Regions from separate parts of the Homo sapiens genome. Here all the other regions are linked to region 1. Evidence: fine-mapped expression QTL. A gene starts in region 1. Each other region holds a variant in brackets. All regions are shown on one strand. Distances are from middle to middle. Region 1 holds the start of DLEU1 (deleted in lymphocytic leukemia 1). Region 2 overlaps DLEU1 (deleted in lymphocytic leukemia 1). Region 3 overlaps LOC107984568 (a long non-coding RNA gene). Region 4 overlaps DLEU1 (deleted in lymphocytic leukemia 1).

Region 1 (2,688 bases):
TGCTTTTTTCCTTGCGACATGTTTCAAACACCGGAGAAGAAAAAAGTCTTCTAAGAAAGTGCGACTCGGAGGAAATAGCCACGAGAAGGAAATCGTTAGCTCGAAGCCCCATCTTTCATCTCACCCGTGAACACTCCTCCCCTTTGAGAAAGGACAACGCTGCGAGAGCAAATGACAAAAATCCCCAGAAAGAAGCTAAAGTCCAGCATCTTTCCTAAGAGCCCGCTACAACCTCAAAAGCCTGCCCCTGCCCCATCTTGGAAGCGCGAGCCGCGGCCAGTCCTACCTACCTAGAGACCTCACCGGGACCCAGCGCGCCGGGGGAGGGCAGCCAGGGCTTGGGAAACTCTTTCCTGGGGCACCTCACGCTTCAGCGTCAAAAGACAATATAGATAGATGGGTGCCGGGCGGTGGCGGGGGGGACTGTTGCCACGACCCACCGGAGGGACCCATGACTCCGGGTCCTGAATTTTCTGTCGACCTTAAGTTTCTTGTCACGAGATGACGGCCATCACCGGGTCGAGAAAACGGCGAGAAAAGGCGGCCCGGTTCGGAAATGGGGGAGGGGCGCGCGTCCAGTCCTCCTGTCAAGGAGCGGCCGCCTGCAGAGACCCCGCAGTGCGCCGTCCCCGGCTCCGGTCCCGGGCGGGGGGTCTTGCTGACAGATCCGCTGGGCGGCGGCTGCTCCGCCGCAGCCGGTCCGCGTCCCGCTCAAACTGCAGCTCCCCTCCCCCCACAGCCCCGTCTCTCCGCGCTCCCGCCACATTCCGCCCGCCGCCGCCCACTCGCAGACGCCCAAGTTGCCCCTAACCCTACTTCCTCGGATTTTTCGCGATTAAGTGAGAGTAGACCCCGCGCCCACTCCCTGCACCCACCACTGCCTGCGGGTCCCACCACTGCCACCTCCCGAGTCCCGCTCTGCTACTTCTTCAGGCTCTTACCGACTGCGCCAGCCTTGGCGAAGCTCCGCCGACTGCCCTTTGCTCCAAGTAATTTTTGGCGATTTTTAAAGTAATTTTTCCGGCGGAGTCATAGTGGCGCTATACTCTCGGACAGGTTATCCTGTCTCTCCCGCTAGATTGATGAGATCAGGCATCACTCGAAAATGGCGCCGAAAGCGCTGAGGCTCCTCATTCAAATTCGTTAGAGCCAACCCCGCCGCCCCAGGGAATGCCGGGAACGCGGGCTGCCTCCACAGCTGTCAATACCGCCTCTTAACCCCCCTTCTCTTGCTTTCCCGACATTTTTACGCATGCGCAAACTCCAACCCTCCCCCCTCCTCCCGCCAGGCACATGCGCAGAATCATCGTGGTGCACGGCTCTCCCTTTGCTTCTTCGGTTGCAGTCCTCTTGCTTCTTGCGCGTGCGTGTAGCGCTTTTGCAAAGCCGCGGAGGTGAAGTGAACTTAGAGGTTGTGGGGCCGAGGGGTCGTCTTATAGCTACCAGCCCACAGGCATTTAGTCTACGTTGGAGGTAAACAAATACGGGTCCTGCTTAGGAGAAAAGAAAAACGTCTTACAGCCAGTGTCTAAACTCCAAACAACGGAATGTATCAATGAGACCTTGTATATGGATACACGTGCATTTAAAACCGCCCTGCCGGCTTGTAGAGCTTTTGCCGTTCTCCAGCGCTTTACAGGGGTTATCGCACTTAAGCCTCGGAACAACTTTACCAGGTAGGAACTATTACTGTTCTCGTTTTGAAGACCAGGAAACCTAGGCTCAGAGACGTTAAGTAATTTGCCCAAGACAGCACAGGTGGCACAGAAGTGGATGAATCCACATCTGTCAGATTCAGCAGCCCTGGAGTTCTCTACCACGCTGTACGATTCAACCTGAGCCCACACAGGAGGCGTGGTCTCCTTCTTCAACGGTGTGTGTGTGTGTGCGCGCGCGCCTGCCTAGAGTTAATGATTAAGTTTGCTGAAGCCCTTCTTCCCGGTCCTAAGCTGCCTGTTGCGAAGGCGCTTTCATTGAATTCAGTTTCTCTTACCGTCTTAACTTGTTCATAAACTTTTTGAGATAGGAATGGGCAGTTTTTCTGTGTCACTTAGGATGATTTTTTTTTTTAATGGCGTGATAAGTGAACTGAATCCAGCAAAGACGAGTTTCTGTTGTGCAACACGTTGGTATACTGACAGCTACCACGTATTGACTGTGTACTGTGTGCTGGGCACTGTGCTAAATAAATGATTTACGAATTAATCGTGTTTATTGCTCACAACAGCCTTATGAAGTAGGTATTATCTTCACTTTACAGATGAGGACACCTGAGGTTCAGATTAAGAAATCTGCCCCAAAGTCTTAGAACTGGTAAGTAGAAGCACCATATCTAGGCAAACCTGTCTACCTTCAAAAAAAATGGGCACTCTGATAGGACAATTAACGATAATAAAGTTGTAATTTTTTTTTTTTTTTGAGACGGAGCCTCGCTCTGTCGCCAGGCTGGAGTGCAGTGGCGCGATCTCGGCTCACTGCAGCCTCCGCCTCCCGGGTTCAAGCAATTCTCCTGCCTCAGCCTCCCGAGTAGCTGGGACTACAGGCAAGTGCCACCACGCCCAGCTAATTTTTGTACTTTTAATAGAGACGGGGTTTCACCATGTTGGCCAGAAGGGTCTCGATCTCTTGACCTCGCGATCCGCCCGCCTCGGCCTCCCAAAGTGTTGGGATTACAGGCGTGAGCCACCG
Region 2 (2,688 bases), 68 kb after region 1:
TTGTTTTTGATAAGCAACTCAGTGCCTTTCAATCAGTGGCTAAGACCAACTCGTTGAACACAATGGGATGGTTAATTAAAGACACATTTTAAATACACACACAACTCACAGATGTATGCAGGGACATGCATACAACTGTTAAGGCAGCCTGCTTTGGTCCTGAAGAATATAATTTGATTTACAGTTGAGAAATACAAACTAAACTCTGTTTGGGGAAAAATTATGCCCTAAAAAAATGACTGGGGTAGAAATACTGTATTTGAGAAATGAGAACTTTAAAACACTCCACTTTGTCTTTGTTAAAATGGGCGTAATAGAAGTAGAATTTTGCCAAGATGTTTAACCTTATTGAGGCCACAAAGTAGGAAAGGTTTCATTTTTAATTTTGCAAAACCCAACTTTCTTTCTTCCTCTTTATTTCCTTGTTTTCCTCCCATCTCCCTCCCTCCTTCCTTCCCACCTTCCTTTCTTCTTTCCTTCTGTCTTTTCTTCTATCTTTCCTTCCTTTTTTCTTTCTCTGTACTCTCCTGTCATAATCAAGAGTAAAAAGTTTAACTTTATGCATCTGAATACATTTATTCATGGATTCTTATTTAATAAAAATAGAAAAAAAAACACTCGTAAAGAAAACTCTTGGTGAGTTACAAATGGCACGCTTCCTTTGGGGCGCAGGAACTCAGGGTGCTCTTAAACACCTTGACATTTTCAGGACTTTCTGCCACCTGGGATTTAGATCAAAACTGCAGTGCGTGTCAGACCATCTCAGAACAAGGAATGTTTGTCTCAGACATTATTATGCCCTATCTCTTGATGAAAGACTGGGATAGAGTCAAATCATGTGTCTTGGTGTTTGTTTAATATTTGTGTTCCGCATTTATTAGCTGATGAGTTACTGGAGATTTGCATTCTTCTGAGTCAGCCAGTATGACCTATTTTATTGCAGTCTAAAGTTGTACTGAAGGGTGCCTTGGAAAACATGTTCTCCAAATGTTGGTCAAGACTGACATTCACAGAATTTAAAGCTGGATGTAATGTTATCCAATGACAGCTTCGGAAATATGATGACTCTGCAAGAAATCAGGGGAAATTCAGAATGGCTGTTAAGACCACTCCTAAGACTATCTTGACTATGTGAATTCTTTCTCCAGTTTTTTCTGTGTCATCCCAGCTTGCCATCTCTAGCTCCTGCTTCACAGGCCTCGAACTACCTCTCCAGTCCACTTCAGTGCCTTAACAGCTCAGATTTCACTTCCAGTAGTCTAGGGCTTTTACATAAATTAGAGCAAGAAGAGAATACAGTGGGGAGAACAAAACTGATTAAAAGGTTGGAAAAATAAGACTTATGAAGAAAGGTTAAAGGAGCTAGGATTATTCAGCTTGGAAAAGAGAAACTAGTGGGTGGCTTAATAAAAGTTTTCAAGTATATGAAAGGTTATTATATGGAGACTGGCGACCAGCTGTTCTCCTGC[C/T]GCTGAGAAGAGAACAAAAGGAAATTATCTTTAACTTCTGCAGCGGGGAGCTAGCTTGGAAATAAAGGATTTCCCAGTGGTGAGGTTTGTTAAACATTAGAATGCATTACCATGGCATCTCTTTTTCTGGAGATCTTTGGAAATAAGACAGGGACTGGTGTGGAAGGGATGGTTTAGATAGGTGGAGGCTTGCCTAAGTTACTGGAGAATCAACCAGATGACCTGTGGAAGCTCTTTGCTGGTCCTTTGAGTCTACACCAAGCCAACTGGACCTCAGCCAGAAAAGATATGGAGAAGAGCCAGGCTAGTTCATGCCTTTGACTGTTTCAGCAGAGGCAGAGCCAGTGTTCACCTTGTCACAGGCTTAGTTTTCTTGATATCTAATTGTTATTTGGTGGTAAGTAGTGATTGGAGCAGGGATGGGAAGGAGGTTAAAAAATTCAACCAGCTAAAACATACATAAGATCTCCCTCAAAGAATATTTCAGTGAGTAAGGGTGAGGCCTATGAAATATGAAGTGCCCTTGTAATTTTTTTTTAAGACTTCAAACGTTTTTCCTCAACACTATACCTTCTATGTGTTCATGTAAACTGCTCCTTTAAGCTTTTGAGATATAGAAGTGTATGTGTGTCTCTAAAAAATGGAAGAAGTGTTCCATTTAGTTCTTATTAATAAATGGATAAGGATTATGGGATTTTGGACTCAGATGGAATGTTGGAGAGATCATTTAGTTTAACACAGTGGATGAGTTTTTCTGGACTTCTAGGCTTAATAATCCCAAAATTATATTGCCATGACATAAATATAGTATTATACTTACCACAAGAATTTAAGTATAATATAATCATGTTAACAAAAACATCTCAGTGCATTTATTATTTTTGTCAAACAATATGTTAGTAAAATATTTTTCAAAGAATTGAACTCTGTTTTTTAAATTTAGTTCATTATTTAGACATAACCTAAAAGATGTTGACAATACATTCCTTTTTTTTTTTAGATTGAAGCGTTTTTTAAATTGTGGTAAAAAATTCCACAATATTAAATTTACTATCTTAACTTTTCTTTTTTTTTTTTAAATTGAAACAGGGTCTCACTCTGTTGCCCAGGCTAGAGTGTAGTGGTACGAACATGGCTCACTGCAGCCTTGACCTCCTGGGGTCAAGTGATCCTCCTTCCACCACAGCCTCCTGAGTAGCTGGGACTGCAGGCACATGCC
Region 3 (2,688 bases), 600 kb after region 1:
AATGAATACTACATGTGGTATTGAAAGTTGGCTTAGCTCTGCTTTTCCCACTGTCAATGACAAAGAGAAAGGGTGAGTCTATGTCACTAGAAAAGCATGAATGCATCTTTTGGCCAGACTCTGACCCCACACCATGGGGGTAGTTAGTTTGGGTTGAAGTAAGCTGCTATAACAAAGAGACCCTAGGGTATAGTGGCTTAAATAAGTTGGAAACTTTTTTCTTTCTCACTTTACCACTCAGGTGTGAATGGTTCAGAGCTGATGGGGAGGCACTACTGACATCCTCAACAAATGGCTTCCATTTCTGTATCCAAAGTGACAATGCTTGTTCTTGCTGTTTTACAGACACTGGGAAGGGATAAATGATCTGGAGAATGTATGCCCAATTGTTTGAAGGGCAAGACCCACAAGTGGAGTACATCATTGCAGGTCACATCTCATTGGTCAGAATCTAGTCATTGGTTTTATCTAGCTACAGAGCTGATAGAAAATGAAGTAGTTACCTGGACAGCCATGGGCTCAACTAAAACCGGGAGAAGAGATCTGGGAGCACAATGAATGGATCTGCCTCAGCTTCTAGCTGAGTTCTTGGAACCCAGAGGGTGAGCAACTGAGACACTGTGTAATTGCTCTTTTTTCCTATGATTTCTGTCTCCCTCAACGTTGAGCCTCTGAGATGTAAGCATTGGAAACATTACAGTCAGATAGTGAAAAGTTTGCTAATCTGACAAGGAACCAATGTTCATTAAACTCTTCAATGTGCATTTTTATAGGGTGTGGCCAAACCCGAGTTAGATAAGTGCAGATGTCACTAGCTACAGGTTCATTTGAACTCCACAGTTCAATTCCCGCCCCCCACCTCACTTCCCCTCTCCCTCTCTCTTTCTCATCCTCTACATTTCCTTTGTGCTTTTGGAATTCTCCTTTTTGTTACAAATAGGTACACAAGTAAAAAATTCAGGGGTTCAGTGGAAACAAACAAGTTTTAAAGTAGAATTTACAATGAGATGCCTGATGAACAATGGTCTATTCGCATAGCTGAAAGCTCTACTCACAAATCTCTTTCCCTTTTAGATTTGTGAGGAACAAGGGATTGTATTCTCTGCACGGGATTTTGCTTCTGGGCTAGGGTTGACTGCAAGTTTATTGGAGTGAGCACTATGTTTTGTTTTGTTTTTACCATAAGGGACTTCTGCAAAGAGCCCCAGTGCTCATCATGTGCTGTGAGAAAAATGGAGAGGGTTTGCAGAACAGTTCTTTCTCTTTGTTCAAAATTAGGTTCAAGCTGAGAACCACTGTGGATATTTCAAGTTCTGTTTTGGATAAAATAAGCAGA[C/T]GTGTTTGAATTAATTAACTTTGTAAGGCAACTCAGCACCGAGACTGAATTAGTGCTGATGGAAGGAGCACTGTTTCAGGAGTCCCAATACTTCTGTCCCAGCCTTGGCCTTGCCACAAAATCTTCATAGGACTATGGGAAAATACCCATCATTTCTGTGCTGTGGTTCCCCAATTACATAAATTCAGAGATACTTACAGTTCTAGAAGAATGATGCTATAGATACTGCAGTCTGCCTTTGTTATGGTAACAGGAAGACTGAGGTGAGCCTATGCCAATCCTTTCCTCCGCAAACCAGTTACCATCAATCATGCATTTCTTGGAGACCCCTGGGACCTACCCTCAAGCACCCTACATAGTAGATCCTACAATATTTTGTGGCTTAGATTTTATGTATGGGTCTGCTTCCCCATGGGCTTCTTAAAAACAGATCCTATTTCTTATTCATCTGTGTTGTTCCTGAAGTGCCAGTACTATGCTTGGCTAGGTACTGGATGCTTGATAAATACATGAAATAAAAGTGTACCTGATATCAGAAGGCTGGCTAGTAGCAGGGCGGGGTCAAGAATTCAGGTTTCTTTACTTCCACATCAGTCTTTCTCATGCTTGACCTCTCCCTTCCCTTAAAAATAAAGATAAAGATAAAGATAAAGTGTAATACCATGTGCCAGAAGTTCTTGGGCACTAGAGATGCTGGTGCAGAAAGAGATGACTGGTGTCCTCATCCTTTGCTCAAGATTGTTCTGCTTTTTCAGTCTCTTTGTCCTTAATGATGATTTATTCTCATAACATGTTTGTCTTCTTTCTCTCTCAAGAACCTCTGCTTAGAGTGGTCCAAGGAAGACTATATTGCAATGGGTCCCAGAGCACTTTGTAGGAGCTTTGATGCCAATATCAAAAGCCCAAGATGTCCACTATCTTAGATGAAGGCTAACATCTGCTCTCCAAGATGGAACCCTCACATGCTGCCATAAATAAGGCAGAGCACCTCATGCCTCTGAATTAGACACAAGGCACCAAGAGGCAAGTGCCTGGGGCTGTCGCCCAGGTCATCTATGCTTGACACTGCTCAGCCTGCTTACAAATAGGGTTCTTGCTATAGCAATCAAAATAACCACACAAGGCAAGTAAAAGGCACAGACCAGAGTCTGGGGAGGTTCTGAGTGGGGCTGATTTTAGCACACAGAAGGGAATGAGACAACCACAGCCACCGCAATGGGCCGGGAGGAAGGAAGGCTACTGTGGGTCACCAAGAGAAACACTTCCTTCCATTGTCTGGCTATACAGGCTCAGATGAAAATAAAAATAGGTGGACATTGAAGATATGCATGTGTACATCTTGAGCCAGACTC
Region 4 (2,688 bases), 73 kb after region 1:
GAATTCTGTGGCTGTGTGGTATTTTCTCCTGCATATTAATAAGATTAAATTGACCAAAAGGTTTCTTTTTTCCTTCAAAAATTTTCCTAATATTTTTAGAGTATGAAGATTATATAGCTTTATTGTAAAAATATTCAAGCAGTATTGAAAAATATAAAGATCAATAATAACAACAGTCCCAGAGATAACCACTAGTAGTATAACATATTGGTGATCATCCTTACAGATGACTCTCATAAAGATCAATACTAACAACAACAATCCTAGAGATAACCATGGGTAATATAACATATTGGTGGTCATCTTTACAGATGATTCTCAATGCATATATATTCACATATAAATATATATAAGTAAATATATACATACTCTTACAAAATGAAAAAATACAATACAAACTTTTGTAACCTTTTCCATACTAATCACTATAGATCTACATCATTATTTTAATGGATGCATTATATATATTGTATATAGAATACTATCTGGCACTCAGTAGGCCCTCAACCAATGGTTGAATGAATGAGCAATAATTTATTTAACCAATCTTCTATTAGTGGACATAATTTATTTTCTGTTTTTCACTATTATAAATCACATGGCAATTAATATGTTTTTGCATCTTCTTTGTTCACATGTACAATTATCTGTTTAAGGAAACCTTAAAAGTTGGGTCAAAAGGTGGAAACATTTAACAATTTGATAGTGATAAACTTGCTGAGTTGGCTGAGTTTATGCTCAAGTCATACAAATTTACATTATCATCAGCAATACACAAAGGTGTTTGTTTCCGCACATTCCCCTGCATGCCTACATTGCTGTCAGTCTTTTAGAGTTTGCCATCCTGATAGAAAAATTGCTGTACTGGTTTTCCTTGCATTATTTACATTACAAGCAAGGCTGAGCATCTCTTTGTATATTTATTGGCCATTAGGTATTTCTTTTATGCATTGTCTGTTCTTTGTCCAGTGGTTTTGTCTTGAAACACCAGAGACCTATTTTATCTTAATGAAGTCATTTACTTTTATAATTCTATCATATGCCCCCAAACAGGGAAAGATGCATCTTTTAGGTGGGTATACTGATAAGTGAACTTGTGTGGACCCGTAGTTCTCATTTGTCAGAGGTAGCAACGTAGGGAATTTGAATATTTTTACCTCTAGGTCGGTGTCTTTTTTTTTTTGTTTGGAGATGAAGTCTCACTCTGTCACCCAGGCAGGAGTGCAGTGGTACGATCTCAGCTCACTGCAACCTCCACCTCCCAGGTCCAAGCGATTCTCCTGCCTCAGCCTCCCGAGTAGCTGGGATAACAGGCATGCGCCACCACACCTGGCTAATTTTTTTTTTTTTTTTTTTTGTATTTTTAGTAGAGACAGAATTTCACCATGTTGGCAAGGCTGGTCTCGAAATCCTGACCTCAGGTAATCTGCCTGCCTCAACCTCCCTAA[T/G]TGCTGGGATTACAGGCATGAGCCACCGTGCCCAGACCCAGTGTCTTTTTGTGTGAGGACCACTACTAAAGTTTTAAGAGATTTCTTAAAAAGGCAATCGTCATTCTGAGGCAAAGATTACCAACATCTGGATTCCAAAAAGTGGGGAAAAATCAGTTATTCATATATATTAAAATGACACACTTCATTTCCAACTACCAAGTACAATGTTCACCTTTATTCTGTTTGTTTTCGCTTTGTCGTGCTACTGAAATATGTGTGCATGTGTATTTAACCAAAGAGAAACTCACTCCTAACCCCATATTTAGTGGTGGGACCATCCCTTATTTAGTGAGGCTGTTTTTTTTCCCCCCAGACCCGAGTTGTTGTTGCCCATGCTGCTGAATTCCCAATATGAATAAATCATAATCATATGATTATACTAAATCAGAGGTTTCAGTACCCTTCCACAAAGTGACAATAAAATGCTCATTAAAAAAAAGAGTAGGTTGTGTTCAATGGTGTTAATTTAAAATTTTAATGCTCAGGCCAAAATGCCAGAAAGTGAACCTCAGTTTCTTGGTAATAATAAGGTGAACTGGCTTCCAGCAGAGAGATTTTGTGGCTTCTGTATCCTGCCGCTGCACTTCTCCCTTCTCCAGCCTCCTTTCTATTTGGTGGTGCAGAATCACCTTGGTCAGCCCTTTGACCTTGCCTGGAAAAAAGTCCTCATCAGTGAGTGAGTGTGAGGTTAGAGTGATAAAGATTCTAAAGGAATGCCTTGTTTTGATTCAAATAGTTGGATTAGTCACAGAGTTACTTAATCCACACACATAGTAGAATCCTCCAGCAAGCTTCTTTGTTTTCATCAGAGCTTTTGAGAGATTATTATATTATATCTCTATCTTTTAAAGATAGAGTAGAAATCCATCTATGAAGAATAGTTTTAGGTGCATTCCTGCCTGAACACACATTTGGACAGTCTTATAATTATGTATCTTCCCGAGATGCATTTTGAGCCATTTCTACCCAGAACTTAAAAAAATATTTCCTATGAGTGCTGGAGGTTCTTGCTTCTCTTAACCCACTAACTTTTTGAAGCCATAAGAATATCTTATTAAGGATTATGCAAAATAACGTCCTACAAATCCTGATATTATTACACTGCCCAAAAAACTTCAAAGCATCAGGAAAGTGTTGTGTTTTTTTTTTTTTTTTTTTTTTTTTAACTAAACCAGATTCAGCTGGCTACCCCACTTGG

The links.
Region 2: its variant is fine-mapped to the expression of DLEU1 in blood mononuclear cells (TOPMed, PIP 0.91).
Region 3: its variant is fine-mapped to the expression of DLEU1 in testis (GTEx, PIP 0.93).
Region 4: its variant is fine-mapped to the expression of DLEU1 in whole blood (TOPMed, PIP 0.94).

What each region holds. Positions count from the first base shown.
Region 1 is chr13:50,080,882-50,083,569 of GRCh38, forward strand. It overlaps DLEU1 (deleted in lymphocytic leukemia 1), which reads left to right and starts at 1,288. Exons shown (of 7, transcript NR_109974.1): 1 at 1,288-1,676; 2 at 2,261-2,313. The region is part of intron 1 of DLEU2 (deleted in lymphocytic leukemia 2); the gene reads right to left. RefSeq lists silencers at 432-726, 590-809, 1,210-1,259 and an enhancer at 1,417-2,212.
Region 2 is chr13:50,148,450-50,151,137 of GRCh38, forward strand. All of the region lies in intron 2 of DLEU1 (deleted in lymphocytic leukemia 1), which reads left to right. Among named protein-coding and RNA genes, the nearest start is that of DLEU2, 24 kb to the left of the region's middle. The variant C/T (reference allele first, on the strand shown) is at 1,470.
Region 3 is chr13:50,682,044-50,684,731 of GRCh38, forward strand. LOC107984568 (a long non-coding RNA gene) reads right to left here. Exons shown (of 3, transcript XR_001750074.2): 3 at 1,678-1,958. Among named protein-coding and RNA genes, the nearest start is that of DLEU7-AS1, 120 kb to the right of the region's middle. The variant C/T (reference allele first, on the strand shown) is at 1,337.
Region 4 is chr13:50,154,162-50,156,849 of GRCh38, forward strand. The region is part of intron 2 of DLEU1 (deleted in lymphocytic leukemia 1); the gene reads left to right. Among named protein-coding and RNA genes, the nearest start is that of DLEU2, 30 kb to the left of the region's middle. The variant T/G (reference allele first, on the strand shown) is at 1,449.